Linked DNA regions of Homo sapiens: region 2 is linked to region 1. The links come from fine-mapping of genetic effects on gene expression. A gene starts in region 1. The other region holds a variant in brackets. All regions are shown on one strand. Distances are from middle to middle.

Region 1 (16,427 bases):
ACGAAGTCTTTTACGGGCCTAATTCACAGGTCAAACAGCTGGTTGACTAAGAGGTGAGGTTGGCAGCCGCCCCGGATCTTCTGAGTCTGATTTGCTGGTTCTTTGCATTTTAGGAGCAAGGAAATGGTGGACTAGTTCTCCAGCTGCGTTCTCCTTCTTGAGTGGTCAACAGCGACACTAAGAGGCCTAACCGTTTACTGCATCCTCTCAGACACATTATTATTTTTGAATTATCCAAGATCTGAAATCCTTCTTGTCAGAGATAAGAGGACTAGTGTTGATTGAACATAATTGAATCGATATATGTTAAACAGTGTCACCTCAAGTTATCTTTCTTGGGAATCCATGCACTAACCTTAATGCCACCAATATTGCTTCAAACATAGTGGAGTTAACTTTTTTGAATTGTTCAGTTTAAGAAACACACAGTAACAAAGAACTGGCCGTAAGGACCAACACAACTATTAAAAGACATGACCACCACTTGTTCTTCCACCACTGAACCTTGATAATGTGTTTATTCTTATACTTACTACATTTATCAGGGTTATTTGATAAGATATCCACCTCCTCTTTGACCTTTCCCTCTCTATACTCTTAACTCTCTAAGAGCTGAGACAAGGAAAAAAAGAAAAGAAACACACAGAAATCAGCCATATTTATACATTATATTTCTTTAAGTTTGTTCTTGGTGACCTGATAACTTAGTTTCGATATTTGTTGTTATTTAATATTCATTAAACAAACACATAATTAGGCATCAGACAATATGTTTGGGGATTTAAGGTGAACAATATAGACACAGTAGCTTCCTTCACAGAGATTATAAGGATATAAAAGCAAACAGGGAATTGCAGTGTACTGAGATAATTACCATAATGGGAGAAGCCAAGGGGGTTAGGGGGGCCTTCAATTGGGCCTTTAATGTTAGCAAACGCTTTCCCAGGAAACATGAGAGGAGTGGATCAGTGAAAAGGCCTGGATGTGGGAGAGAACAGCATGACAATGCCTAGGTGTGAGAGAGAAATCACAGACCTTCAGGGTACTGAAAGAAGTTTCCTTTGTTTAAATCTAGACTGTAAGGATGTTTTTTCAAAACCAACTGAAACTAGTAGAAATAAGCTTTTATGTTCCAGAATCTCTTTCCCCATAAGTTTCCAAGCACAGAAATATAAATACAATATATTTGTCGTTTCAATCATGATGCATTACATATCTATGCATAAGACATTTATTCTTGTGGAGTTACTACACACACTAAAAATAACTTTGCTTTAATTTTCCTGTTTATACTTTATTATTCACTTACAAGTAAAGCTATTATGACATATTATTCCACAGTGAGTTCCAATTTTACTCATAGACAATTATGTAATAGTAACCAAAACAACACCTTGTCTCAGAAAATTTTTTCTTGATCAAATGCAACGGAAAGAATCACAGCACTTTGAGAAATATGGTATCATTCAATAAAAGGCTCAATTGGTACATGATAATTTTCAAATAAAAATAAAAAATGATGCCAGTTACATAGAACATTAGTGTGCTTATTATTCTCTGTTATTAAATACATAACCAACATACTAAAAGCCAATATAGGAAGAGGAATGGGAAAAGAAAATTGATCAGAGGGGCACTGGGATTGGGTGAGGGATTGGGAACATTTCTAGCAGCTATTGTGAGTAGAAACCTTGAGAAGAGAGATGTATAAAGAAGTTGGTTCTGGGCAATTGTATGATATGAATCTTTTGTATCTTTTCTTTAAGCAAAACTATATTGAGGATATATATTATTTTAAAGATTAAAATACAGTATGGTTCCCACGTATGAGAAAGATAAAAAAAAAGGAGAAACCTGTTTATTACCACTCTACAGCTTTATTATAGAGCAGATGATAAGTCAGTCACTTCTTCAAGAAGCATATAGCTTAGAGGTTAATGTGATTTTTAAAACTAAGCCAAAATAATATGACATACCTTCCTGAAACACTGTAAGGAATGTATATTTCTAAATTTCCATATTTTTAACAGGGAAGGGCATGCAAGTTAAGGAAAACAATTTTGCTGCCAAACTGAAAGAAATGTATTAAGACTGAATGAGAAAGAACTAGCCAACTAACATGTTTCACTGTTCATATACAGATTCAAATATAGAGTAAGAGTCATAACTTAAAAGAAGAAAGGACTTGAGTAAACATAAACTCCAATCTTTATATTTTTAACAAAGAAAAAATTGTTGATCTGGGTGGATGAGATGATTTGCCCAGGGATGGAGAAGAAAGTATAAGAAACCAGACACCCTAGTTCCTAATGCAGTGCTCTTTGGATAATCTTATCTATTAACTCCTGGTTTACATTCATTGCACAAAGATTCTCACGTCTCTTCTTCCTCTTACAGCCTGTGAACACTAAGACCTACCAAGAAATAATTCACCAAGACTCACTTCCTAAAACTTGACTCTACCCTCAAGGAAATATGGGGAACAAAATAGATATAGTAAACAAGTAAGTGAATTACTTCAGCAAACTAGCTAGTACGTATGTTGTGAAAAGATAGATTACCTGAGAAAACGTTTCTTCTCTTTCTTCTTCGAGTAGAGATTGAGGCGCTGATAAAAAATCCTTTTTCTCACAGCTCTCCTGGCTGATGAGCGTGTCCGCATAGTTGGGCTGGGGGAAAATCAGGTGGCTCTTCCGCGAGTCCGCAGTGAGGGAGACCTCGTGGGAATAGGTCTGCAGGAAAGCCCGAACCCCGTCCACGCCCACAAAGTGCGAGCTCTGCATGCCTGTCAAGCTGCCTCCTGAAGCCTGCAGCAGGCGTGACTTGTGCCAGCGCCGCAGCCTGTGCGCCAGCAACACGATGACGAAGGCCAGGAAGACGCAGGAGACCGCGGCCACCGCCACCACCAGGTACAGAGTGAGGTCCGAATCGTTGGGTATGGCGGAGGGCTCGAGGCTGCCCAGGTCGGCCAGGATGTCGGGGATCCTGTCGGCCACGGCCACGGTGAGCGTGACAGTGGCGGAGAGAGGGGGCTGGCCGTGGTCCTGGATGGCCACCACGAGGCTCTGCTTGAGCGCGTCTCTGTCCAGCAGGGCTCGCGCCGTGCGCACCTCGCCCGTGTGCAGACCCACCGAGAAGAGTCCCGGCTCGCTGGCCTTGAGCAGGTGGTAAGACAGCCAGGCGTTCTGGCCCGAGTCTCTGTCCACCGCCACCACCTTGGTCACCAGGTAGCCGGGCTCTGCGGAGCGGGGCGCCAGCTCCACGCCAGTGGAACCGTCTGTGGGGAAGGCAGGGTACAGGATCTCGGGCGCGTTGTCGTTCTGGTCCAGCACGAACAGGCTTAATGATACATTGCTACTGAGTGGAGGGTTCCCGCTGTCCCGCGCTATCACCCACACTTGCAAGTCTCGCAACTGCTCATAATCAAAGGAGCGCAGTGCATAGAGTACTCCAGTGTCGGAGTTGATAGAGATGTAAGAGGATAAGGGTGCCCCCTGAACAGTGTCCTCCGCGAAAGAGTAAGTTACATGAGCATTGTCGTTGCTGTCGGGGTCATGGGCCGTCACTGAGAAGACAGAGGCTCCTCTGGGGTTGTTTTCGGGAATGTAGGTGGAGTAGGATGTGCGGGAGAAGGCGGGTGCGTTGTCGTTGATGTCTGCCACCTGGAGCAAAATGTGAGCATCCGTGGACAGGGAGGGGTTCCCTCCATCTTTAGCGGTTAGAGTGATGTTGTAAAAGGAAAACTGTTCCCTGTCAAGGGCTCTGGTTGTAACCAGTCGGTAGTAATTGTCTACTGACTTTTCTAACTTAAAAGGAAGATCCTCGGGGAGTGAACAGGTGGTGAATGCGTTCTGCCCAGAGTCTCTATCATGTACATTAAAAAGCCCAATTATGGTTCCTGGAAGAGAGTCTTCAGAAACTGAGCTAGTAGCAGATGTCATGTAAAATTCTGGGGCATTGTCATTCACATCCAGAACCGTGACGATAACCTTCGCTCTGGTTAGAAGGCCCGGACCATCCTGAGCTTCAATATCAATTTCATGGAATGTAGCATCCTCATAATCTAGATCTTTTATGATTGTCAGTTCTCCAGATGTTGACTTAAGCTCAAATACCTCTGAGGTTTCTCCAGGGCTTTTCTCTAGAAAATATACCACTTGAGCGTAGTAGCCCTCATCTGCGTCAGTGGCGGTCACCGTGAGTATCCGGGTGCCCACGAGCGTATTCTCCGGAATGCTTATGCGGTACTCGGGCTGTGTAAAAACAGGCGCATTGTCGTTCGCATCCAGGACCTTCACGCAGATGCGGGAGGTGCCAGATAGCACTGGGTCACCCCCATCAGAAGCCACGAGAACGAGGTGGTGAACAGCCTCTTCCTCGCGGTCCAGAGAGCGCTCCAGCACCAGTTCTGGGTACTTGTTCCCATCAGCTCCCCTTCGCACGTCCAGGGAGAAGTGGTCATTTGGGTTGAGTGCGTACTTCTGAAGGGCGTTCTCACCTACGTCTGCATCATGCGCATTCTTAAGAGGAATCCGGAATCCTGGCGTAGTGGTTTCACTGATTTTTAGCTCCAGTTCCTCTACTCCAAAGCGAGGGGCATTATCGTTAATATCTGTTATTTCCACCTCTACTGAATAAATAGTCAATTTATCCTCCAGCAGAATGTTAAAATTCAACAGACAGGGTGCGCTCTGAGCGCAGAGCTCCTCCCGGTCTATCCTGTTCGCAGTGACCAAGCTGCCGCTTCGCGGGTTCAGAGCAAAGAGCTGGGACCTACCTCTGGAGACGATGCGGACTCCCTGCTCTGCCAGTGCCAGGGGCTCCAAACCCAAGTCCTTGGCGATGTTGCCTACGAAGGAGCCTCTGTCGATCTCTTCCCGCACAGAATAGCGAATCTGCCCGGCCCTGGCCTCCCACAGGGTCGCCAAAAGGAAGCACAGCAGGACCAGCTTTCTGCAGTGTGGCAACTTTTGCAGAGCCGCCATTTCCCTCCTGTCGCAATTTTCTCCGAGTCAACTTCCAGCATCCAGTGCGGATTCCAATCTTTATTCCTCAGGGTGTGAGATAACCAGCATTCACGGGACCCAGGTCCCTATGGAGAGAACTGGTGGGCTGTTCGACTGAATTTCTTTGGTGTCCTGAAGCTTTAGGGCCAAACCTCCACCCCCTTGTGCTGTGGGAGCCGTATTGCTGGATTGGATGTCTCGCTGCCTTTTACTCCTTAGGTGGTCAACAGCGACGCTCAGAGGCCTAAATAATTTCTGCACCTGCTCAGGAAAACCTAAGTTACTTCTTGTTTGTTTGCCTTTGTTGACTTTCAAGGCGCTTTAAAGAATCTTACAGCTCTAAGATACCCTAGAATTAGATCTTTCAAAACAGGAATCTTTTTATCAGGATTAATAAGAATGGTATAAATGAACATGATCTTGATAATAGTTGCTAGGAAAGTATTATTGACTGCTCAAGGCATTAATCAATGCCACCACTGCCCTTGCTCCAAACATCTTCCATCTCTTATTGTATAATCAGAAGCAGTAAGATCAATTAAGAAACGTTAGCTACGTTTTCTTCTAAGGTTATATATTTTGAACGTTTATGGTTGATGGCTTTGCATTTACCTTCAAAATCTGCCTTTAAATTATTGAATCATCAGACACTTAATTGGGTACATGTGCCTCCCACTTTGCATGATTGCAGCTGGAGCTAGAAATGGTGAACATGATAAACACAGGCCCTGGTCTCAAGCGTGAAGGTTGGAGGAGGACATAAGAAAGTAAAGAGAGTATAATAGAGTATGGTAACTGCTGTGATATGAGGTAGGAAACACTGGGTGATGGAGGAATACCTAGGAGGGGTATCCAGTCTAGATTTGGGGTCAGAAAAGTCTTTTTGAGGGCATGATTGAAGCTGAATCATAAAAAGTAGGATTGAATCAAGAAAAAGGCTGAAGAAGTGTTCTAGAACCTCTGAACAAATGCTTGAAGGTAAGAGACAGCATGGAACATTACAGAAACAGAAAGCAGGTCTATTTGATAAAGCTAGAGCCGGAAGGGGTTTTTCACCACACTAGGAATCAGTCACTCAAAATTGTTTGAGGTTGTCAAGTTCTTTTTCTGATATTCATTTTCCAAGGGTGTAAAATACAATGCAGTGGATGTCTTCTTACTCTTGTTTCATCTTTACCATTTTGACCATAGTCAAGCATACAATTCTGTGACATTAAGTACATTCAAATTACATTCTGGTGTGACCATTACCACCATCCACTTCCAGAACTTTTTCATCCTCCCCAACTGAAACTCTGTACTTATTAAATAGCAACTCCCCATTGCCTTTCACCCAGTCCCTGGCAACTACCATTCTACCTTTTTTCTCTATGAATTTGACTAATCTAGGAACTTCATATATGAGGAATCATACAGTATTTGTCATTTTATAACAGGTTTATTTCACTTGATATCATGTCTTTGAAGTTCGTCCATATTGTAGCATGTAACAGAATTCCCTTCCTTTTTAAGGCTAAATAACAGCCCATTGTATGTGTGAACCACTTTTTATTTACCCATTCATCTGTCAATGGACACTTGGGTTACTTCCACTTTTCAACTATTGTGACTAATGATGCCATAAACATAGGTGTACAAATATCTGTTGAAGTCCCTATTTTCACTTCTTTTGGGTAATAACCAGAGTGGAATTGCTGGATTATATGGTAATTCTATGTTTAAATTTTTGAGGAGTCACCATACCATTTTCCACAGCAGTTGTGTCATTTTATATTCACCAGCAATGCACAAGAATTCCAATTTCTCCATATTCTTGTTAACATTTCTTTTCTTTTCTTTTATGACAGCAATTCTAATGAATGTGGAGTAGTATCTCATTATGGTTTTGATTTGCATTTCCCTAATGACTAGTGATGTTGAACATTGTTTCATATGGTTTTGGCCATTTGTATATCATCTTTGGAGAAATGTCTATTCAAGTCCTTTGCTCATTTTAACATCCAATTGTTTGGGATTCTTTGTTGTTGAGTTCGAGTTCTTTATTCTGGATATCCATTCTCAGATACATGATTTGGAAACATTTTCTCTCTTTCTGTGGGCTGCCTTTTCACTCTATTGATATTGTTCTTTGCTGCATATAGTTTTTAACTGTGATAAAGTCCAGTATACAATTTTTTTCTTTTGTTGCTTGTGCTTTTGGTGTCATATCCAAGAAATCATTGCCAAAAATCAATGTTATGAAGGTTTCCTCCTGTTTTCTTCTAAGAGTTGTATAGTTTTAGTTCTTAAACATAATAACTAAAAGGGTTTTATTGCTTCTGAATATTGCTTCTTTGATCCATTTTGAATTAATTTTTGTATGTGGCATAAGTGGAATTGCCCATTTCTGGTGACACTTTAATCTGTTTGCCTTTTGGCTCCTTCCTTATTGAAATTTTCTCATTTTTACTTTCATCCATTCCTCTTACAAGACTGAAGAAAAATATATTGGAAATAATTGATACCAACTCACCATGTTTTCTTGTAGAGCTACTATGGTATATTTTGCTTTTGTTTTTTATTTTTATTTTTGTGTTTGTGTTTGTGTTTTTTTGTTTTATAGAGATTGGGTCTTGTTATACTGCCCCGGCTGGATTCAAACTCCTGGGCTCAAGCAATCCTACTGCCTCAGCCTACTCAGTACCTGGGATTATAGGTGTGCCATTGTGCCTGGCTCTCTTACATGAGTCCTAACGTTAGACTTGACAGAATTTTCATTTTCTCCCCACTGGTTTTATTACATTTATTGTCTGCTTCCATTATTTCATCCTCAGAACTCTTCCATGGTTGCATTTCAAAAATGTAACTCTTTGTTATTTTTTCCATCATTTTATTTTAGTATATACTCATTGTATGTTTTTTATCTTACTTCTTGAATGGCAAGCTAAATTCATGTATTTTAAATAATTTTGTTTGCTTTTAAAAAAATTATTGCATTTGTCTATAAACTTACTCCTAATTAGTTTTAGTTGCATCTCACAATTTTTAATAAAGAATATTTAAGTCCTTTTTTTCTGAGTAGTTTTCATTGTCATTGTGATTTTTGAAATCCAAGAGTTATTTAAGGGTGTAGATGTAAATATCCAAACTTTTTCCCTTTTCTATTTTTAAATGTTTGCTTTGTGATTAAGTATGTGTTGTAAGGCAAGTATATTATTGGTACTTTGCAATTTGCTGAACCCTTTTTTGTAATGACTAGGTAATAAACTTGTAGATTGTCTGCTTGTTCAAGGATGACTATTCCATATTTGTTGTGTGCAGAACGGATCTATTAGAATCCTAATAGATCAAGCTTCTAAATTATGTTGTTCAAATCTTCTTTATGTTAACTAACTTTCTTCCTGTGGGGTCTATTATTTCTTATGGAATTATGTTTAAATATTCCGGTATTTTCTAAGCTATATTTTTCAGTAATAGAAGCTTATATTTTTATATCCTTTTGATCATCTGCTCTTTTTACAACTATAATCAGTTCATTTTTTAAAATCACAATTTGTGTTTGTTACCTTAAATATGACTTTGTTGTTACATTAACATGACTTTCTTTTTTGTGTGTGTACATATATATTTAGTTTCACTGTTTCAGTGTATTTTTATTTTAAGCACGTGTATTATTAGAATATGGATTTTAAAAATCAACCAGTTTTGTAATATTTGTCCTTTAATAGGTAAATGTAGCTCACTTGTATATACACAGAAAAAAAATTATGATTATAAGAGCTGAGAAAGTCCAGAAGTGAGATAACTTAGTTATCAATTGAGAGTATACTCTTGGTACCAAGCAAAAAATAAAAATAAAAATGCAACAGACACACAGCAAGAATGAGAGAAAGTCTTCAATAGTTACCAGAGAGAAAACAGAGATTACCTTAAAAAATAACAGTGTGTTGACAGAAAGTTTCTCACTAGTAACAATAAATTCTACGAGACAAGTGTGTTTTGAAATTTTGGTTTGTATATTTATTTTTAGTGGAAGAGCTCTGTTTGTTTTTAGTTTTAGTTTGTTTTTTTCTCTTCTACACTATATCCCTCTCTCCTTCCCTCCTGGGTTCAGTGCTCATTTGTAATGGTTTTGAAATAGTTTCTATCTGACCTCAGGTCCCAGGCCATAACTAGGTCTCTTAATGACGCTTTAATGATGCACAGCAGTGATATTCTGGATACCACAGCTCACATATGAGATACTTGGTGTTCGCTGTCTCTATCCAGCATCCGTGTCTGTCTCTCTCTCTTGGTCTACACAGCTTACGAAGAAAGTTATAACCACCGGAATTGGGAAACAGCTTTTATTATTATATTTATTTATTTAACAGGGTGTGGCTCTGTCGCCCAGGCTGGAGGGCAGTGGCGCGATCACGGTTCGCTGAAGCCTTGACTTCCTGGGCTCAAGGGATCCTCCCACGTCAGCTCCTGCCCCGCCCCGCCCCGCCCCTCCCCGCCCCGCGTAGCTGGGACTACAGTCGCAGGCCGCCCTGTCCGGCTGGTCTTGAACTCCAGGGCTCCAAGGATCTTTCCGCCTCAGCCTCTCAAATTGTTGGAAATACAGACGTGAGCCACTGCGCCCAGCTAGGCAGCATGTTAATGCATCTTTCTTTTCCTTTTTAACCAGCTGAAGGGCCTCATTGCTTATTTTGGATTCAGGCAGTAAGCCTGGTCCAGATATTTATCTAGTCTGAAGCACTTCTGTCCCTATTACATTGCTGGAGGCAGTTTCCTAACCTTCAATTTCTGCTTTTAAGTCCAAGACTATAACTCACATGGCTTTAGACTAGCTCACCACTTTGCTTTTGCTTTCCTCTTATATTTTATGTATCTCTGTATTTTATTGGAGCAGAGTAAATACATCAAAGCATGGACTTACTCCCCGACCATACTTTTTTTTTCTTCTGAAAAGTTAACACACATTAAAATAGGATATATACTTGATTTTTGTTAGCTGATTTCATTACAGGTATAATGTATAAGTCAGGAGGCTTCAAAGATATTTCTCAAGTTGCATGATAAATTTTGTGTTGTTCATTTTGTTACTTCATACATTACTTAAATAGACGTATTCTTCAGTACAGGCACCACAGCTCACACCTGTAATATCAGCACTTTGAGAGGCTGAGGTGGGAGGATCGCTTGAGCCCAGGAGGTAGTGGCTGCAGTGAGCCATGATCATGCCACTGCACTCTAGCATGACCCCATCTCAAAACCAAAAAAATCTGATAATAAAGATAGAATAAAAGGCTAAAATATTCAACAATAATTTAAAATTGCAGTTTATATAGATCTCTATAATCTTATATGAACACAACTAAAAATACTACTTTAGACAATCTTCACCTCTTCAAATGTCCCCAAATAAACTATCACAGTGTCCTGACAGATGACATCTACATTAAATTCAGGGGTAGATTAGCAGGTACTTATAAAAAGAAAATTTGAAAATAGTGTTAGTCATTTAAATATTGGTGAGCCTTTTCTAATCAAACCTTTTAGCCCAGAGGCAAGTAAGAAAATGTTAGAAGCTAGATCGCCGTTTCTAATGCAGTGCTCTTTCCAAACAGAGATGGCATCTCACACATACCTTCAACCCAACCACCTACATTATGATCACAGTCTCCTTTTCAGTGCAAGAACAATTATAAATATACCTGCATATGAACGTGTAGACTCAATCGTGATTTTGCAGGACTTGTAATAAAAAGCTACAAAGATACATGGGTTAGAAGAACTATCTGTAGCAAAGAGCGAACGCTAGTAAGTTAAATCAAGAATTATTTTTCTCTAGATAGCTGATACATTCATCACAAAAGTTTACCTGAGAAAATGGTTCCTTTTTGTCTTCAAGTAAAGACTGGGGTGCTGATAGAAAACCCTTTTTCTCACAGCTCTCCTGGCTGATGAGTGTGTCCGCATAGTTGGGCTGGGGGAAAATCAGGTGGCTCTTCCGCGAGTCCGCAGTGAGGGAGACCTCGTGGGAATAGGTCTGCAGGAAAGCCCGAACCCCGTCCACGCCCACAAAGTGCGAACCGGGCATGCTCGCTAAGCCGCCTCCCGAAGCCTGTAGCAGACGTGACTTGTGCCAGCGCCGCAGCCTGTGCGCCAGCAGCACGATGACGAAGGCCAGGAAGACGCAGGAGACCGCGGCCGCCGCCACCACCAGGTACAGAGTGAGGTCCGAATCGTTGGGTTTGGCGGAGGGCTCGAGGCTGCCCAGGTCGGCCAGGATGTCGGAGATCCTGTCGGCCACGGCCACGGTGAGCGTGACAGTGGCGGAGAGCGGGGGCTGGCCGTGGTCCTGGACGGCCACCACGAGACTCTGCTTGAGCGCGTCTCTGTCCAGCAGGGCTCGCGCCGTGCGCACCTCGCCCGTGTGCAGACCCACCGAGAAGAGTCCCGGCTCGCTGGCCTTGAGCAGGCGGTAGGACAGCCAGGCGTTCTGGCCCGAGTCTCTGTCCACCGCCACCACCTTGGTCACCAGGTAGCCGGGCTCTGCGGAGAGGGGCGCCAGCTCCACGCCGGTAGAACCATCTGTGGGGAGGGCGGGGTACAGGATCTCGGGCGCGTTGTCGTTCTGGTCCAGCAGGAATAGGCTGAGAGACACGTTGCTGCTGAGGGGCGGATCCCCACTGTCCCGCGCCATCACTTTCAGTTGCATGTCCCGGAACTGCTCATAGTCGAAGGATCGCAGCGCATACAGGACCCCAGTGTCGGAGTTGATGGAGAGGTAGGCAGATAGGGGTGCCCCCTGGATAGTGTCCTCTATTAGGGAGTAAGTGATTTGTGCATTCTCATTGCTGTCCAAGTCGTGGGCCCTCACAGAGAAGATGGAGGCTCCTCTGGGGTTGTTTTCGGGAATGTAGGCAGAGTAGGAGTCCTGATGGAAGACTGGGGAGTTGTCATTGATATCTGTCACTAGTAGTGAAATGTGAGTTTCAGTAGATAGAGCTGGAGTTCCTTGGTCTATTGCTGTTATTGTGATGTTGTACCCAGAGATAAGTTCTCTGTCCAGTGTTCTTTCAGTCACTAAACGGTAATAATTATCAACTAACTTTTCCAATTTAAAGGGTAAATTTCCAGGAATGAAACATGTGGTGTAGCCATTGTCTCCTGAGTCCTGGTCATGCACACTGATAAGAGCAATTATGGTCCCAGGAGGAAAGTTTTCTGGAACTGCAGTGGTGACAGAGGTGATGGTCACTTCTGGGGCATTATCATTTACATCCAAAACTTTGATCAGTACCTTAACTTTAGCCATGAGCCCCGCACCATCCTGGGCTTGAACTTCCATTGAATACATTTTGTATTCTTCGAAATCTAGTGGTTCTTTATTTGATATTTCTCCTGTGTAAGAATCTAAACGAAATATTTGGGCCACTCTGTGGTCTACATTGTGAAAGGAGTACGTTACTTCCCCATTGGCTCCCTCATCAGGGTCAGTGGCATTTACCATGAGCAGCTGAGTACCCAGCGGCACGTTTTCGGGGACATTTATATGGTATTGTGCCTGAGTAAATGCTGGAGGATTGTCATTTGCATCCACCACCTGAATGTAAATTCTGAGGGTCCCTGAACGGACTGGTTCACCCCCATCAGAAGCTGTGAGGATGAGGTGGTGGACAGCTTCTTCTTCTCTGTCTAAGGGACTCTGCAGCACCATCTCTGGATGTTGAGGCCCATCGGCTCCCTGTTGCACATCCAGGGAGAAATGAGGGTTAGAGCTGAGTTGGTAGCTCTGGAGTGAGTTCATACCCACATCAAGGTCTTGCCCAAAAGGCAATGAGACTCTGGTACCTGGAGTCGTTATTTCATTCATTTTAAACTCCAGTTCCTCTAACTGGAATTGGGGAGTGTTGTCATTAATATCAATTATTTCTACTTCAACAGGAAAAAGCTTCATTTTATCCTCAACAAGGATATTAAAACTCACGAGACACGGCATGCTCTGAGCGCAGAGCTCCTCCCGGTCTATCCTGCGCGCGGTGATCAAGCTGCCACTTCTAGGATTCAGAGCGAAAAGCGGCATCCTACCTCTGGAGACGATGCGGACTCCGCCATCTGCCAGCTCCTGGGGTTGCAGCCCTAGGTCCTTGGCGATGTTGCCTACGAAGGAACCTTTGTCTGTCTCTTCCGGCACTGAGTAGTGAATATTCCCAGCCCCAGCTTCCAACAGCAGCTCCAGAGAAAGACACAGAAGCATCAGCCTGCTGCAGCCAGTCAGCTTTTTCTGAATCTTCATGGCTCTCTCACTTCGTAGTTTTCTTCCAGTCCAGTACCAAGGGTATCGTTTCTGCTTTTCTGAGCTGAAATTAACCCAATTTTCAGGAGAATTCTGACTGGAGAGTCATCCAGAAGTAGGATTTAGGCAGTCTTGGACAGTCAGTTTTCAATCTGGCGGTTATGGAGGTTCTAAGAGGCACGAGAGCTTTTTTCTTTTTCTTTTTTTTTTTTTTCCTCCTCCTGACCTGTGTGTACTGCCTGTATCTACCAGATTAGTGAACAGCGGCGCCCACAGTCCTAACCAGTTACTGCATTCCTAGCAAATACTGAAAACCTTCTCATTAACTTGTTATTTTCTTAAGTTTTAGTCTATTGTCAAGGAAATAATTCTACAATATATGTATGAAAAAGAGAAACTATATGTTCACTTCTTTAAATGTGCCTAAATGTCACCAAATTGAAATATACAGGAGAATCCAAGTATTCCCATGTTATCTGCTTTCCAAGTTTGCTATTCAGGGAATTATAGTAAAAACCTAACATTACAATGAGGACAAAATCATCTCTCCACTTTTTCTGTAGTAAAGTTTGACCACTTGGTAATTTCCCAGGCCACATAGAGCAGCTCCCCTTTGACTGGAGGGTGAAAAGTATTAGAGGGAAAAATAATCTTTTAGAATATAAGCTAGACTTTAAAAAAATCATACCATCCCATTTCCTTCCCATTATGATTTGAATATTTATCAGAAACCTTGGGATTTTGAAGAGCATGGTTTAACCCTATCCTTATTTTTCCTCTTTTTTTTTTTTGAAGTGTCTTTGCATTATGTGGGTTTTTAAAAAATTCTTAAGATTCACCAAAGGCAATATATTTTGAAAAAAATAAAACTGGGCTCTTGGAATTTCATTGAAAAGTCACATGAATATATAATTTAGATTTCAAATTTCAGAGACAAAGTCTATGATATTATTCTTCACAGCTGAAAAGAAAAATGGTCTCATCTTTATTTTTAGATAGGCTCTTATAATATGTATTCCTCTATAATCGCACTTAATATTTTCTCCAAGAGAAGTTGGTTTTCTCTTAACAGTATTTTTTAACCAGTTGAGGATGTGGCCTTCTTTTTTTTTTAATCACTGCACTATTAGCAAAGGGTTACTAATTAAAATGTCTCAGGCTTAGAGTGACTTACTTATCTTTACCCCAAAGTTAGAGAAGCATGCTATCTGTACTCCAGAGTCTGATAATTTCAGGAACAAATTCGGCCAGCCAACCCATGGACACCATGACTGAGAAAAGTTAAAAATGAGGAAAGAAAGAAAACAATGAAAGGTCTCAATAATAGTTTTTGGAAAGAGAACTTTAGTTCTTAACCAAATCTACAGTTTCTCAGCTTCTCAAAGACAAGTACATGGAGCCAAAGAGTAGAAATTTAAAGGTGCAATAAATCATCTTCAATATTGCAAGGAAGTAACTCTTTAACAGAGAATGTAACTTTTCAGAATACACATTAATAGGCATAAACTTTTCCCCAAAGAAATTGTGAGCTAATGAGGTAAATTAAAATATACATAAGAACTAGTAAGTAAACCTGTAGAGCTCCCTACTTTCAGCAACCAAAAACACGCAGGAGTGATTTATAAAAGGATGGTAAGTATAAAATAAAAATGTTAAAATATCACACAAATACATTTGAATCAAATGCAACATTTAAAGCTTCATTGCTGCCCACACACAGTGGCTCACGCCTGCAATCCCAGCACTTTGGGAGGCCAAGGTGGGCAGATTACTTGAGGCCAGGAGTTTGAGACCAGCTTGGTCAATATAGTGAACCCCGTTTCTACAAAAACAAAAATAAAACAAAGCTTCATTGCTGGCACTGCAGAGAATACCTGGTTCAAAGCTGTTTCTTGAGTTAAAGAAATTAAGATTTTAAAAATATCTAAAACCACACATACGTTGTAGGAACAGGGCAAATTTCCTTTCTTTAAGTTGGAGACAACTCCATATCCGGGCTTGGACCAGAGATCCAGCTGAAAACAGCCCCAGGCAATGGAGCTATAGGGGGCATTGCAGGTTCAGAGAGATGGCCAGAGTCACACTGAGGAGAAACAGCATGGAGATCAAGGCAACGGCCATCGCCAGCTGTTGGGTGCTGTCTGCTGCCTGCTGTTGGGTGCTGGGCGATTGCTGAGGTCTGGTAGCAACTCCTGCAAACTATGAGCAGCAACCAGGTGATGTTTCAGCGTGATGATTCACCATTGACCACGGTGACCAACAAACCTTGGCAGGTTGCATCTCTGTTACCCACAGTGACACGGCACGCATCTAGCTCGTGCACATCCCTAGTTTGAAGAGCCACATTAGCTGGCCTGAAGCACATGATAGGACAGTCAGCCTTTATGCCCCAGCTGGTGTCCACTTTGGTGATGGGATAGCTGGGTTGCATTGTGAGTGGTGCAGCATCAAAGAGGGCCCCACTTGGCTGCAACTCCTGGCATAGTGTCCTTGCATTTTTGCAATGGTCATCCACCATCACATGCAGGTTCAGGATGACACTGAGCAAGTTGAACCCTGGTCACTGGCCTGCAGAGTCAGCTCAAAGATAGTCTGCATGGTAACCATAGCACTCTGCACTCACTGACATGTAGAATGACAGTGCCCACAGTGGCAGGTCACTGGTCAAGAAGAAACAGGAGGCATATGGGACCCTAAGTTAGGGTGGGAAGCGCTAAAGCATGTGATGGAGGTGCTGGGCAGTGTTCCCAGTCACCCAAAAGAAATAGGAGGCTTGTTGAAGAATGAGCATTTTTGTGGATGCAGATGGTATGCAGGGTGATGCAGGAGAGGGACAGTTTGTCCTTGTTGGTGGTTCTGATGGTGACATTGTCCTTCAGGGTCTGCTACCAGTTTAGAATTCCATCTGTGAGTATCTGACAAAGAGTCACATCATAATTCTTGGAGGTGAATTGTTTGCCAGTATGATCATTTCTCTCTATAATAACTTTCATCTTTCATTTAAGGTCTCTTAGTCCTATTGTTTTGGTTAGGGCAACCACAGTTTTTACCTCTGATAGGACTAGATACCCAGCTGAAAGTCACCTGCACTGACTGCATTATACTTCTCAACCTTCATTTCAACCAGGACTCTGAAGTCGGCCCTCAAACTGCCT
Region 2 (16,427 bases), 50 kb before region 1:
ATTTCCCCAGTATTTTCATTAAGCTGGAATAACGGAGTTTGTTTTTCATTAATTTTCCGGAATTTGTATGCCACTTTTCCGTTGATTCCCTCATCCGGGTCGCTGGCTGTTACAGTAAGCAGCCGCGTGCCTGGGGGCATGTTCTCAAGGACTTTCACTCGGTAAATCGGGTGAGGAAAAACCGGGGCATTGTCATTTGTATCCAACACTGTCACGTGGATGCGCACTGTGCTAGAGCGAGGCGGCTTGCCGCCATCCGAGGCCGTGAGGACCAGGTGGTGAGCAGCCTCTTCCTCCCTGTCCAGGGCGCGCTCCAGCACCAGCTCTGGGTTTATGGCTCCATTGTCTCCAGTCTGCACGTCCAGGGAGAAGTGGTGATTGGGGCTGAGCTGGTAGCTCTGGAGGGAGTTCACGCCCACATCCGGGTCAACAGCTTCTGGGAGTGGATAACGTGCTCCAGGAACCGCGATTTCGTTAATTTTTACTTCTAGATCTTCGACCTGGAATTTTGGGTTATTATCGTTAATATCAATTATTTCTATTTCTACCCCAAAGAGTTTTCCTTTATCCTCAACCAGGGTGTTAATATTTATCAGACACCGCGGGCTCTGAGCGCAGAGCTCCTCCCGATCTATCCTGCCCGCGGTGATCAAGCTGCCGCTGCGCGGGTTCAGAGCAAAGAGCTGCGTCCTACCTCTGGAGACGATACGGACTCCGTGCTTCGCCAGCTTCCGGGGGTCCAGCCCCAGGTCCTTGGAGATATTACCCACGAAGGAGCCTTTGTCCGTCTCTTCTGGCACAGAGTAGCGAATCTGTCCCCTCCCGATTTCCCACAGCGTTCCCAGCAGCGCGCACAGCAGGATCAGCTCGCCGCGTCTGGGGCGACTCTGTGGAGCGGCCATTGTTGTTTTGCTGCAGAATCCTCTCAGAATCTTCACTGTGCATAAATGGGTCTTATTTAGTTTCTTGCCGCAGCTATGGAGATGACAATCCTCCGGAAACCTGGAGTGCCTCCAAACAGGGGTCGGGTTTCGCTGCAGTCCAGCAGTTAGTTTGTGGCATCTGCGGGTCTTCGTGAGGTGTGAGATCTGAGTGTTTTCGGTTGCATTTGTCTTCCAGTAGGTGAACAGCGGCGCTTACAGTCCTAAATAGTTACTGCACTGAGATACAGATTACTTCTAAATGTAATACTCTACTAGATTACTGAGAAAAAAAAATCATTTGCTTATTACTTTGTTTTGAATTTATTTGATTTATCCGTAAACCCATATTTTAAAAGAAACAGCCAAAGAATGTGAGATGAAGGTTTTATTTAGTGTTATTAAATGATCAGATTAGATCAGAATGATCAGATTGTAGCATCGGATTAAATTACTCACATTTCTGCAATACATTTGGTCTTAAAAAAAACATGATACTTTCATTTCCCATTGTGCTCTAAGCTTTATTGTAAATGTCTCCAATATATACTAACAAATAACTAAGAACTTCAGTTGTCACCAGAAATGAATTTATCTTGAGACTAAAATAGACCTACTGGAGATGACTGACTCAGAAATTGTTTTATTTGGTTTAAACTACTTAATCATTTTACAAGCTTTCTATAGAGTTGTTGCTTTTAAATTATTCTTCTAAATGCCACTTGAATTACATGTCGATAATATTTTCAAATAAAAATTGTGGAATTTCAATAGGATAAATGCTTTTACCATTGCAGTTTTATGAGATATTACATTGTTTTGCTATTTTATTTACATTGTTTATATTTTTCTATTTGAATACTTGAAAGGTACAGATGAATATATGATAAAAAGCAAAGCTCCATCCCATCCCTTTCACCAAAGAGATGATTAAATTTAAAGCAGACTTGACTTTTACATATATTCTAAAATTAACTTTACCTACATTAACACTTTGATCTAAAAAACTGCAAAAAGTAATGACTATATAATACTTACTAAGAAGCCAAAGGATAAGTATGACTACAAAAAAGTCTGTTTCCCTTCAAGACCAGCCTGGGCAACGTAGCAGATGAACTTATTTCACCCTTCCTTTGAAGACTGGTATGATAGTTTTTTCACTGACTAAAACTTTCTTAAAACCACTCATGAAATCTGAAAACTTTATATTTTCCTGTGAATATATTTTCTTATGCATATGGAAAACTGGGTAGACAATGGAAACCATACCAGTTAAATTAGTGAAAGAAAATATTTTCTCTACTGAAAACAGAAAAATTAGCCAGGTCTGGTGGCATGAGCCTGAGTTCCAGCTAGTCAGGAGGCTGATGCAGAAGGAATGCTTGAGCCCAGGAGTTTGAGGCTGGAGGGAGCTATCATTGTGCCACTGCACTACAGCCTGAGTAACAGACAGAGACTCTGTCTCAAAAAAAAAAAAAGAAAAAAAAAAGAATCGAAAGACGTTTCCTTCTTTCAGCAATTTGTAAAGTGGCCATTAACTGAAGCAGTTGCTTAGATATACCTAGCAAAAGGCTCATATAATGTTCCTTGGTATTTTGTATATATTTTGTATGCACACCAGATTGGCAGTTTTCAAGACTATATTTCTTTCCTAGAGGTAGGAGAATGATTAGAAGACCTCTAGCTATATTAGTTTAGGGCTGCAGATAAGGCAGTTACACATTATATATTAGGGCTGTGTGTGAGAGGGACAACAGACACAAAACATTGTCTTTTCTTTGATGAAGGATATAGAATGAGCTTGAATACAGATTAATCCTGAAACTCCTATGTTACAAGTAAGGAGAATCTGCTTTTGATCTTCTAATGAGCATAGTAGACCTTTTTCTAAGTAAAAGGATCTCTCTCACACACACACACACACACACGCACACACAGCGTACACTGCATATAATCACAAGGGGTCCATGGACATAAAAATCCAGTTGACTCCTTATTCTAAGAGCTTTTGAAACAAAAGGGAAGTTAACACAGGAAACAAAACAGTGGACTACTATGGAGACCATACCAGTTAAATTAGTTAAGAAAAGTGTTGAATTTTAGCTTAAATTCTTTGGCTTTATTATTTTTATATTTATGGTATATCCAAGCTGAAAAAAGTATTCATCATATATTAGTCAACAAGAAGGAAAATGTATAGGAAAAATCTCATTCACTTTTTAGGAGAGAGCCAACAACTGTCTAACACTTTCACTTTGTGGTTAAAACCACACCCTCATTGCTTTATAAATCTAAGCTTGGCTAAAAAACAAACAAATGTTGGGCCACACAATTGCTCCTACTTTACTCCTCCTTTGTAGAATGATATGACAGCTTTTTAACTGACTACAACTTTCCTAAAATGATCCATGACATCTAAAAATTATATATTTTCCTGCAAATATGTATATTTTCTTGTGAATATGGAGAAATGGGTAGGCAATGAGCATTAAATTATACTTAAAGGAAACTCACCTGATGGGAAGTCAATTCACTGGAATTACAAAGTGGAAATAAGGCCCCAGATGAATCACCGCAAAGTATGTCTTGTCCTGAACTCAACTGCTCACTACATTTTAGGAAATTAAACTCCGTCTTTCCTGTATGTGCAACACATAGATTGTAGGAATAAGGCAAAGTCCCCTCGCTGTAGTTGGGGGGAACCACGGATTCGGATTTAACACAGAGACCAGGCTGGAAGCAGCTCCAGGAGGCGGGGCTGGAGGAGCGTCGCAGGCGCAAGGCAATGGCCAGAATCATGGCCACGAGGAAGAGCACTGAGATCAAGGCCAAGGCCACCACTAGGTAAAACTGCAGCTCAGCCTGGAGGTCAGAGGGGTCGGGGCGGTCAGTGATATCCGGCAGCACCTCCTGCAAGCTGTCGGCGAAGACCAGGTGCAACGTGGCAGTGGCCGAGAGTGGTGGCTGTCCACCGTCACGCACGGCGACCAGAAGGCGCTGGCGGACGGCGTCCCTGTCGCCTAAGGCACGCGCTGTGCGCACTTCGCCCGTGCGCAGCCCCAGGCTGAAGAGCCCGGGCTCGCTAGCCTGCAGCACGTGGTAGGACAGCCAGGCGTTGTGTCCTGAGTCTGCGTCCACCGCCACTACCTTGGTCACCAAGTAGCCAGGCTCTGCAGCGTGCGGCACCATATCGAAGAGCGCAGAGCCGTCGGGACCCAGCGCGGGGTACAGCACCCGTGGCGCATTGTCGTTGCGGTCGTCCACTAACACGCGCAGGCTCACGTTCGCGCTGAGCGCTGGCGAGCCCTGGTCGCGGGCCTGCAGTGTGAGTTCGAAGGCGCGCAGCTGCTCGTGGTCGAAGGCGCGCTGCGCGAACACCACCCCGCTCTCCGCGCTTATGGACACGTAGGATGACAGCTCCCGCTGCTCCAGGTCACTGGCCATGATGCAGTAAGAGACTTGGCCGTTGGGCCCCAAGTCCGGATCAGAAGCCCTGACTTGTGAAATAGAGGCTCCAGGCGGGTTGTTCTCGGCCACGTGGACTATATAGGAAGACTGTGAGAAAACCGGAGCGTTGTCATTTACATCACCAATGTGCAGGGTGATGCTGGAACTGGAGGAGAGGGGAGGCTTGCCCCGATCTGTTGCCGTAACGGTTATATTGTACTCTGGATTCTGCTCGCGGTCTAGAACAGCATCTGTCACTAATTTATACGTGTTTCTTGAAGAAGTTAATATTTTAAATGGAACATCACCTTCCAATTTACAAGTCACTTCTCCATTGTGTCTGGAATCCTTGTCACGGACTTTGAGCAAAGCAATATGTGTTCCCAGCTCGGCGTCCTCCATAATTAGGTTGGGTAGAGACTGGAATATCACTTCTGGGGCGTTGTCATTTTCATCTATGACTTCTACCTCCACTGTGCATTGCGCAATCATTCCTCCACCGTCCCTTGCTTCCAAAACTATGGAATATTCTTTGACTTCTTCAAAATCTAATGTATTTAAAACAGTAATTTCCCCGGTGTTAGAGTTCAGGTCAAATTGGGTGATCTGGCTAGCTTCACTGAAAGAGAAAGTAATCTCGGCATTGACACCCTCATCCTGGTCCGTGGCAGTCACCTGTAGCACCGTGGTCCCCGGGTACACGTTTTCTGAAAGGCTCACCCTGTATACGTCTTGACTGAACACTGGAGCATTATCATTGGCATCAGTCACTAGAACGTGTATCTGTGCAGTGCTGCTTAGGGGTGGAGCTCCAAAGTCCAAGGCAGTCAAAGTCAAGTGGTAGGATTTCTGCTTTTCTCTGTCCAAAGGTGTCTTCAATACCATCTCAGGGTATTTACTGCCATCTGATTTCTCTTTATTTATCAGTGAGAAATGATCACTGGGACTGAGTTGGTAATTCTGCAGTGTGTTGCTACCAATATCCGCATCATGGGCAGATCCTAATATAAATCGTGTGCCAGGCTGTGCAGACTCACTTATTTGCAGCTCAAAGGAATTTTGCGTGAATTTTGGCGTGTGGTCATTAATGTCCTCGATCTCCACATTCACGTGATAAAAGTTCAGTGGATTTTCAGCAACAGCCTCAAATTCCAGAGCACAAGCTGGCTTCTTCCCGCATATCTCCTCCCTGTCTAGCCTGCTGCTCACAAGCAACTCCCCGCTCTCTGCGCTCACGGTGAAGTAAGGCTTCTCCGAACTGACGCGCAGTTTTCGAGTCGGTAACTCCTGGACGCTGAACCCCAGGTCCGTGGCGAGGTTCCCCACTACGGAGCCCTTGGGCATTTCCTCGGGAATCCTGTAGCGGATCTGCTCACAGAGCGCCGGGCAGAACAAAGACAGCAGGAAGAGAAAGAGCACTGGCAGCCTCTCAGCCCGGCCCAGCTCCCCGGCGCCGCTCCCCATCCCTCTTGCTCTCCTCAGCTTGCTCACCAGCCTGGAGACGCCGGGTTACAAATAACCTCTGTATTGCAGATTTTTGGATCTCCGAACGGACTTTAGTTGCAGTTCCAGTTCAAGAAAAAATTCTTCTTTTTCCGAGGAGGAAGCGGTGTAAAGGCTGGCGCTGGGGAGTCTGAGCTGGGGCTGCCCTGGAAAGCGCGCTGCGGCTGCGCGAGGAGATCTGGAGCGCCAAGCTCTCCACTTTGGCCAACAGCGGCGCCCAGAGTCAGCACTAGGAAACTACAGCCTCTGCTGCTTCAAGTTAACCAGTGCAATAATTATAATTGTGTGCCTAACTGAAAGAACAAAAACTACGTGGATACGTCTGTATATTTAATGACGTCTAAAAATGTACTCTTAGGAATGCCTTCATCCCAACTTTGAGGATTTTTAGGCAAATCATGTAGATTAAGTACATAAACATTTATTGACATAAGCTTTCCCCAATCTTCAAACATGCACTATCTATATAAAGATAGCCATAACACAGACTTGGCCTAAACCGTCTCAGAGTACAGTAATTTTCCATACTTACTCATTAGAAATATACTGGATACATTTTATCTTTCTTTCATTGTTCCTAACATTTTCTCCACTTTTCTAAGTACCTCCAAGTTGATTTATTTCAACTTTTTCCGGAGAGTATCAGTAATACCAAAATTGCCTTTTAGAAGGTGCAATTTATACTTATCTTCAAATACACCCCCTTCCCAATAGTTTCAGTGATTTCATTACAGGAATATTATGTGATTCTCATTTCGATGATCACAGGCAGTAGCCTACTCCTCTCCTCATTACACAATTATTTTACTGGTTATGAAATACAACATTCATCTTCAAAGTTATCAGGGGGATAATACATAGCCTCAAAACACAAAGTCACTGAGATCTGCTGCACTGAAGCACTGCTTCCTACCTCTGCACTTATTTTACATTCCTTGGTGACCTCTGAATTGAAGGAAACAATCCCTGGAAAGTTTGATTGCAATAGCTCACTGAGTTTAGTGATTATGTCTCTCCATTGCTTAAAAACAATTTTATGCATCTAATAAATTTTGGTCAGGAGATTTTCTTTTACAAAATACCTTATAACCGTAGTTCTGCCATAGGATCTTCCCTCAGTAACATTGTTGGTGTCAGCAACATTGTCTTCTACCCCAAGTGATTGTACATCTGAAATGTGAACACTGCAGAACTTGTAAAATGTATCCAGCCTGGGTGACAGAGCGAGACTCCATGTCAAAAAAAAAAAATGTATCCCCCACACTATTGTACAGAGTCTATCATGTGCAAAATACTACCAAATACAACACTAGTCTAAAAAGAGTCTTTTTTTGAAGAGACAGAGTCTTGTTATATTATCTAGGTGGGCCTCCAATTCTTGGGTTCAAGCTGTCCTCTTGCCTCAGCCTCCCATGCAGGTGGGCTACAGCTTGCAACACCATACCTGGCTAAAAGTGTGTTTTTAATTAATACTCAAAGGTCTCTGGAATCAAGATTACCTTGTCATCCACCCCTTCTGGATGACAATCACTTGATATACTGAGCTTTACTAAAATGTTATACAAAAGAATATGGAAGTAGTTAATCCCAGATTGGGTTATTTCCAACTGAATTTTTCAGTAGACCTAATAAATAAAATCAACTACTGGTCTAGGATCTGTGTACATAAGATGGTCTAAGGTTTGAGTACGTGAGACAGTTGAAACAAAGCCAGTATCCCCAATCTCCCACTTTGATAGCCCACAGACACACTTCATCTGGCTGTACCACTAAAACAACATACTGGAATTCTCTGTTAAAACATGTAATTGCCTATGTCACAAATGCCAATTACAACACTTAAAATGACATTTTATTTGACATATTTTATTGGTTTTGTCCGATGGCCTTTAGTGTGGCATTAGACTTGATGTCTGTCTTTGATATAGATCTTAGTGAAGTGTGATACACACACATTTCATTCTTTAGGCATAAATCCAACCTTCTACTACCACCCCATTAATAAATGATTATACTGTAAATAGGTCAAGAAGCAATCAAGATTTTTTAGGACCACCAAGCTGAGGTACATGGAGGCAGAATCAGCCACAGAAAAAAATCTTCACATGGAAGAAATCTTTCAGAACCTTTTACATATTTGAATGCTAAAGAGAATCCTGAGAAGACAGCTGAGGTGTGTTTTATTCCTGCTAACCTTGTGCAATATGAAAGACTCGATTCATTCCAATGTATAAAATATATGAGTTAAGAAAGTAGGTTGGAACATAGATTGGAAAGTAGGTGGAAATTATAAAATGTGATAGTCCACATATTCATAATCTTGTCCATAGGCTTTCACTAAAGAAATACTATATCCTATGTGTTCTATATTAAAGTGTCACCACTGAAGGAAACTGGTAAACTCATTTTTACCTCTATAAAGTTTTTTAAATCCCTATTTTCAAAACATTTGTTTTGCAAAATAATAGAGAAATATCATGCAAATAAATTCCTCATGGAAATAAAGGAAGGGCTGGGCTCACCTGAATACTTGGCAGGTTTTCTTTACATTCCTGAAAATCTACGGATGTTAGCAAAGAATCATTTTTCTCACAGCTCTCCTGGCTGATGAGCATGTCTACATAGTTGGGCTGGGGGAAGATCAGGTGACTCTTCCGAGAGTCCGCGGTGAGGGAGACCTCATGGGAATAGGTCTGCAGGAAAGCCTGCACCCCGTCCATGCCCACAAAGTGCGAGGTGGGCACGTTCGCCAAGCCACCTTCTGAAGCCTGCAGCAGGCGTGACTTGTGCCAGCGCCGCAGCCTGAGCGCCAGCAGTACGAGGACGAAGGCTAGGAAGACGCAGGAGACTGTGGCCACCGCCACCACCAGGTACAACGTGAGGTCATAGTTGTAAGGACCGTCGGAGGGCTCAAGGCTGCCCAGGTCGGCCAAGACTTCGGGGATGCTGTCAGCCACAGCCACGGTGAGTGTGACGGTGGCTGACAGAGGAGGCTGACCGTGGTCCTGGACGGCCACCACGAGGCTCTGCTTGAGGGCATCTCTGTCCAGCAGGGCCCGAGCCGTGCGCACCTCGCCCGTGTACAGCCCAACCGCAAAGAGTCCTGGCTCGCTGGCCTTAAGCAGGAGGTATGACAGCCAGGCGTTCTGGCCTGAATCTTTGTCCACCGCCACCACCTTGGTCACCAGGTAGCCGGGCTCTGCGGAGCGGGGTGCCAGCTCCATGCCAGTAGAACCATCTGTGGGGAGGGCCGGGTACAGGATCTCGGGCGGGTTGTCATTCTGGTCCAGCACGAACAGGCTCAGTGACATGTTGCTGCTGAGAGGCGGGTCCCCGCTGTCATGTGCAGTCACTCTTAGTTGTAGTTCTCTCAACTGCTCATAATCAAAGGATTGCAGCGCGTACAGGACTCCAGTGTCAGAGTTTATGGAGACATAGGAGGACACTGGAGCCCCCTGGATGGTGTCTTCGGCCAAGGAATAAGTGATCTGGGCATTATCCTCACTGTCGTGGTCCTGTGCAGTCACTAAGAAAATGGAGGCCCCTCTGGGGTTGTTCTCAGCGATGTAGACTGAGTAGGATGAGTGGGGGAAGGTGGGTGGGTTATCGTTGGTGTCTGCCACCTGCATGAATATGTGAGTTTCCCTGGACAAGGGAGGAGTTCCACCATCTGTGGCTTTCAGTGTGATGTTATACAAAGAGAGTGTTTCCCGGTCCAAGTTTTTGGTTGTGACCAATCTATAATAATTATCTATTGATTTTTCTAATTTAAAAGGTAGGTTTTCTGGAATGGTGCAGGTCACCTCACCATTCTTTCCAGAATCTCTGTCTTGTAGGTAGAAAAGAGCAATGACTGTCCCAAGAGGTGTGTCTTCAGGGATTGAGCTACTTAAAGACGTCATAGTCACTTCTGGAGCATTATCATTTACATCTAAAACTGTGATCAGTACTTTTGCCTTTGTCAGACTACCAGGACCATCTTGAGCCTGAACCTCCATTTCATAGAAGGCAGTTTCTTCATAATCTAATCCTTCTAAAGTTGATATTTCTCCTGTAAGCGAGTTCAGATGAAACATCTTTGGAAGTTTAGGAGTTATTTTCCGAAAAGAATATGTCACTTCCCCATTGACTCCCTCGTCCAGGTCGATAGCATGTACCGTGAGCAGTCTTGTACCCACTGGCACATTCTCGGGGACAGTTACTTGGTACTGAGGCAGAGAGAAGACAGGCGTGTGGTCATTCACATCCACCACTGTCACCTGGATGTGGGCGGTGCTGGATCGGGGCGGGTCGCCGCCATCAGAGGCTGTGAGGACCAGGTGGTGAACCCGCTCTTCCTCCCGGTCCAGCACCCGCTCCAGCACCAGTTCCGGGTACTTAGTTTCATCGTCTCCACTTTGCACAGCCAGGGAGAAGTGGCGATTGGGGCTGAGCTGGTAACTCTGGAGGGAGTTCGTGCCCACATCTGGATCCCCAGCCTCGCTTAACGGAAACCGAACCCCAGGAGCTGTATTCTCCATTATTTTTACATTTATTTCTTCCGTCAAGAATCTTGGAACGTTGTCATTAATATCTATTATTTCCACGTCTATAGGGTAAAGATTCATTTTATCTTCCATCAGGATGTTAAAGTTTACCAGACACCGCGCACTCTGAGCGCAGATCTCTTCCCGGTCTATCCTGCCCGCAGTGACCAAGCTGCCGCTGCGCTGGTTCAGGGCGAAAAGCTGCGTCCTACCTCTGGAGATGATGCGGACTCCGCGCTCCGCCAGCTCCCGGGGCTCCAGCCCCAGGTCCTTGGCGATGTCTCCCACAAAGGACCCTTTGTCCGTCTCCTCCGACACGGAGTAGAGAATACGTCCTGCCCAGGCTTCCCAGGGGGTCCCCAGGAGGATGGAGAGCAGGAAGAATCCTCTGTAGTCCCCGCCCCTCGGCTGAGCCGCCATAGTCGTCCTGCTTCTCTTGCTTAGGCGCCGATCTCGGGAAGTGCTTCAGAATGCGGGTGTATCCGGGTGGACCCCTCTGTCTTAGGAAGGGGAGCTCAGAATCCAGCAGGATAGAGGCTTGAGTTTAGTGCAGCCTGGAAGAGGGCTTATCGCAATCTGTCGTTTCTCTGTGCTGTAAAACTCGGTGGTTTCTGTGGGATCTCTCGCACCATTTTTCCCTGGTTGGTGAACAGCGGCGCTGTGAGTCCTTACTAAGTTACTGCACCACATTGATGCACACAATACACTGATTTCATAGAAAATTGTTTCATCTTTCAAAATTTCCCTGTTAGATTTCTTTGCTCTAGATATCCCTGATAATTAAAAATCCATTTTAAGACACTGAATTAATGCAACAGTGTTCATGGACCGGTGTTTGATAATCTTAGATAATTTTTAAAAAACTGCTTTGCCTTGCAACTTTCAAGTGACTCTTTTGGGCACTGACTCACACGTTATTGCACATGGGAAAATCAGTTATTGAAGGCAAAAAGGTAAATTTTATTTAAATACATATGAAAGATTTTACTTAGAAAATATTTACATCAGTGTATATAAATTTTAATTAATTCAGTATTAATTGAACACATATGTTCTAGACACCATGATGCAAGATTCAGAAAGTCAAAATTGTTGTAAAATATATAGAC[C/A]TATTTTAATAAATTTTTGATTGTATAGAACCTTAGAGACGGTCTAACACCTTCATTTTAACCGTTTAAAAAATGAGAGGGGGGGCCAGGTGCTGTTGCTCACGCCTGTAATCCCACACTTTGTGAGGCCGAGGCGGGCGGATCACCTGAGGTCGGGAGCTTGAGACCAGCCTGACCAACATGGAGAAACCCCGTCTCTACTAAAAATACAAAATTATCCGGGCGTGGTGGCGCGCGCCTGTAATCCCAGCTACTCAGGAGGCTGAGGCAGGAAAATCGCTTGAACCCGGGAGGTGGAGGTTGTGGTGAGCCGAGATCACACCATTGCACTCCAGCCTGGACAACAAGAGCAAAACTCTGCCAAAAAAAAAAAAAAAAAAAAAAGAAGAAGAAAGAAAGAAAGAAAGAAAGAGGGAATTGCCTTGCCTTGTTCCTGATTATTGATTATATAGTAGTAGAACAATGTCGGAATCCAAATATTCTCACTCCCAGTCTTGTGAGAAAAAAAGAAAGAAATCGTTGTTTGTCTTGGCTGCAGCAATCAGCTATAGAAGCAACCCATTTTCTACAGAAGGCAGAAATCTGCAGAGATCCTACTGGGCTGTGAATTCATAAGAAACTGGATAATGGATTGGCTGATTCTTTTCATTATGCAATTCAATTCAAGTCTTCATCCTAGTATGCAATTCAAATCTTCATCCTACTCTATTCTAGTGTAATTGAGAAAACAGGGATCTCTAGACAGCATTTGAGCAAAATGCAGGACTGTCCTGACAGGATCCTTAGAGGTACTCGTCTCTCCACTGATGTTGATAGAGTAAAACTAAATTATTGATGGATCCGAGGCTACCCTCTGCTAGCAGAAAGAAAAGAAAGCTCCTTTCACATAGTTGCAGAATAAAAGAGAATGACCTGCTCTGGAATAAAGACCTGGCAAGAAACAGTCTTGGTTTGTAAATTCTTCTAGGTCCTGGAGAGTAGTTGGTGGAACCAGGAGGAGAATCCAGAACTAACACTAAGAAAGCTTAACTTCGTTTTGTGGGAGGCTCCTAAGTAACCTATTTCTGCTTTCTGGTGGCATTGCTCCAGAATACAGGGAACACTTTGAAGGACATTCTGTTTTGATCTATCAAAATAATCCATAGTTATCTTTGCATTCACAAAGTAGATAAATTTTGTTTAAAGGAACTAATAGAGGTATTATAGATGAATTCTGTAAACTGGAGTTAAATTCTATTTGTTTAATAGTACTTTTGAACTTCTTGTTGAGGCAAGCAAAGTGTATGATTATTAAACAATGTAAGCACTTGTAGATATTTTCAAACAAACTTTCATGTTTGGAGGTTATAGCTCTCAATGTCTTGATCCATTTTTACCTGATGCCTCAAAATTCATAGTTTCATCTCACATTTGTTTCTTATTCTACTGTTTTAAAAAAGTCTCAATTAATTTATAGTGTCTTGGTACCTTCTTTGGAGAAAAGGAAATAAGAGCTAGTTAAATTAAATTATAGACTACTCCGAACACAAAGCATACATACCCTATGGAGTAAATGGCTTCATTGTCTCTAGCATTCACATTTTCTAAGTTATCGAACATCATAAAATTAAATATTAAAGATCTTTACTAGACCGCCAAGATATGTTTAATAAAATCTAACATAAGCTCATTGTATCAAATTGAAATCATTTCATAGTTTAAAGAGTGTATATTATTGTTGACTGAGATATTGGGAAGAATCCTGACCATTTGTTTGGTTGCATTAAAAAGAATTCTATGTAAAGTCTATTTGGCTTCCTGGGCATCGAATTGATTATCTTCTCTCTTTTCTTTTTTGGGACTTTTTTTTCTAAAAAACAAACAACAAAACAGTTCTTTGAAGTTCCATTTAGATTTTCATTCTCAAGCAAAGATATAGGTATCTTCCAATGTTTCTCCTCTGAGATTTTACTCCTTCCCCTTTGACAATTGCCACCTCAACAGAAGCCTGATCAGAAATGAATGCCTTTCAGGCCGGGCTCAGTGGCTCATGCCTGTAATCCCAGCCCTTTGAGAGGCTGAGGCGGGTGGATCACTTAAGGTCAGGAGTTTGAGACCAGCCTGGCCATCATGGTAAAACCCCATCTCTACTAAAAGTATGAAAATTAGCTAGGCATGGTGGCATGCACCTGTAATCCCAGCTACTTGGGAGGCTGAGGCAGGAGAATCGCTTGAACCCAGGAGGAGGAAGTTGCAGTGAGCAGAGATCACACCACTGCATTCCAGCCTGGGAGACAGAGCAAGACTCTGACAAAAAAAAAAAAAAAAAAAAAAAAAAAAAAGAGGCTTTCACAGACCATAAAATAAGAATAAGACAATAATTTGGTAGTTTTTTTTCCTGATGCTTCAAAATTCTATACTGAACTCTCAAAACCTCAGATAGCCTATCTTATTATTAATGATCTGTATTGCAGGTGGATTAAAGAACCTCATTTAGCCATAACTTAGCAAATTCCATGACTGCCAGGATGTTTAACAGTTGGTCAGTCCACATGAGTGAATGACTTTTGTGAGAGTAGAAGTTGGTAGTTTTTCCATCAGAGAAATATTTTATTTGTTTAAATGAAATGGTCACAGGTAATAAGAGAATAAAATAAACCAGCCTGATCTCCATGAAAAGTAGTTAGTGAGCTTTCCCTATAACAACAAATGCTCAAGATGTAGTTTAACATCCCAAATTGGTAGTATAGTAAAATAACATTCACACTTTCAGAGTTTATGAAATAATCATATGTATAACAGCCCATCTAACTCATGAGACTAATATCCAAGATTCAAGTTGTTTAAAATTGTTATTTTATCAAATTATATCACAAAGATACAAGAAAATGAGCTTTGAAGATGTGTATGATTAGATCTCTTGTTTAGGTATATACCTTTGGAAACTTGAAATAAATAAATCTATAACAATTCCTTAAATGTAAATACCACAATATTGGTTCAGAAAAACACATATTACTCTTAGCAGCTTATTTAAAAACACATCAACTCAATGTTATCTTTAAGAAGACTGACAAAGTCAGGTTACAAAGGAGGTTCTCATTTATTTTCAAGGTATCTTCTCAATTGCTTTTTTCTTACACATTCATAACAAATTCAGATGCACAAGTGGCCAATCCATTCTATAATACCACCAGATTGTAGAATCTTCCAACTCATGACTGGAGAAAAATCTTGACTATAATGTAGTTCAACAAGTCATCAAATTAGAGAATCCCCTGTACTCCATTCATTCCAGGGCCATCAACTTACTTTTGAAGACTGTCGATAACAGAATCTCCTATCTCCTTAGTGATCCATTTTCTATTCGAACATCATTGACAGTCAAAAACTCTGCTGTTTTCTGTTCATGAAACAATGATTCTGTTTGCACATTTCAGTCATAATAAATAAGACTAATCAGTCTTCTAAATGATAATCCCTTTTTTCTTGAAATATTTCAATAAAGAGTTCCTATATGATGAAAGCCTTATTGTCTGGGTTAAAATGCTAAAATATTTAAATTTTTATTTGAACCTCATTAACATTTGTTCTCCCATTCACCAGTCAGTCATCTATTTTTAGAGATATGTCCTGTAAGCAGACACTACCGAGCATGTTTTAAAATTCATGTTCACTCTTTATTTATTAATTATCATTATTATTTTTTGAGACAGAGTCTCGCTCTGTCACCCAGACTGGAGTGCAGTGGCACGATCTTGGCTCACTGCAACCTCTGCCTCATGGGTTCAAGCGATTCTCCTGCCTCAGCCTCCCGAGTAGCTGCGATTACAGGCCCATGCCACCCCACCTGGCTAATTTTTGTATTTTTAGTAGAGACGGGGTTTCACCATGTTGGTCAGGCTGGTCTCGAACTCCTGACTTCGTGAGATGCCTGCCTTGGCCTCCCAAAGTGTTGGGATTACAGGCATGAGCCACCGCACCCGGCCATTTTCACTCTTAAATACTATCAGGCACACAGTATGCAAAAGACACTGTAGTAGGCACACAGCATCGGTGCTTAGTTATTGTTAACAACCCAATAATTATAATAATGGTGATGTCAACAAATACGTGTTCACTATGCTGCTTTAGAGTTTGAAAAAAAGTTATAAAATTATTTTCTTAGAATTTGAGTCAGATAGATAAGGAAAGTCTTGTTTTAAAAAATAATATAAGTAGAGCTTATTTGAGCCAAGCTTTAGGATTGCAACCCAGGAACATAGATTCAAGTTGCCCTGGATACACACTCTATAAGCAGCAGTTACAGGTGGATTTTTACTCCAGACTGGGCAACAGAGGGGGATCCTATCTCTGATAAGAGAAGTCTTTTAAATCTTAATTTTAATTGGAAGATAATGGCGATTGTAACTGGCCCAAGTAAATAACAGATAGTTACAGGAATGTTATTCAGGTCTTTTAACACCAAAGATCTGGTGTCCCCTGCTGCAGTTACCAATGATTCTTATCTTTTCAAAAATAATTTTTGATTCCTAAGTAGTAAAGGTGAAAGATCTCTTGTATGAACGTCTGTCGTTTATAGTTATCAAGTAACACTGAGAAAAAACAAAATCTTTTTTTTTTTTTGAGAGAGAGAGAGAAAAAGTCTCATTCTGTCTCCCAGGCTAGGGTGCAGTGACACAATTATATCTCACTGCAGCCTCATACCCCTGGACTTAAGCAATCCTCCTATCAGAGCTTCTCGAGTAGCTGGGACTACAGGTGTACGCCACACATCTGGCTACTTTTTTTTCTTTTTGGTAGAGACAGAGTCACCCAGGCTGGTCTCAAACTCCTGGTCTCAAGGGATCCTCCTGCCTCAGCCTCCTGAAGAGGTGGGATTACAGGCGTGAACCACCATGCTAGCTAAAACCAAGATCTTGATCTTTAACACTGACCTAAAT

Alleles and levels. Alleles are on the strand shown, and positions count from the first base shown. SD is a standard deviation of normalised expression in the study named.
As copies of A replace C in region 2, the expression in esophagus muscle of the gene that starts at base 5,197 in region 1 goes down (small effect, 0.35 SD a copy in GTEx).

Evidence for each region. PIP is the estimated chance that this variant, and not a neighbour inherited with it, causes the effect.
Region 2: its variant is the best candidate, but not a certain one, in a credible set for the expression of PCDHGA2 in esophagus muscle (GTEx, PIP 0.71).

The regions. Positions count from the first base shown.
Region 1 is chr5:141,327,530-141,343,956 of GRCh38, reverse strand. It overlaps PCDHGA2 (protocadherin gamma subfamily A, 2), which reads right to left and starts at 5,197. Exons shown (of 4, transcript NM_018915.4): 1 at 2,562-5,197. The coding sequence starts at 4,985. It overlaps PCDHGA1 (protocadherin gamma subfamily A, 1), which reads right to left and starts at 13,443. Exons shown (of 4, transcript NM_018912.3): 1 at 10,852-13,443. The coding sequence starts at 13,272. PCDHGA3 (protocadherin gamma subfamily A, 3) reads right to left here and starts at 128. Exons shown (of 4, transcript NM_018916.4): 1 at 1-128. It also overlaps PCDHG@. RefSeq lists a silencer at 10,058-10,287.
Region 2 is chr5:141,377,289-141,393,715 of GRCh38, reverse strand. The region is part of intron 1 of PCDHGA1 (protocadherin gamma subfamily A, 1); the gene reads right to left. The region is part of intron 1 of PCDHGA2 (protocadherin gamma subfamily A, 2); the gene reads right to left. The region is part of intron 1 of PCDHGA3 (protocadherin gamma subfamily A, 3); the gene reads right to left. The region is part of intron 1 of PCDHGB1 (protocadherin gamma subfamily B, 1); the gene reads right to left. It also overlaps PCDHGA4, PCDHGB2, PCDHGA5, PCDHGB3, PCDHGA6 and PCDHGA7, and 3 more genes. The variant C/A (reference allele first, on the strand shown) is at 11,506.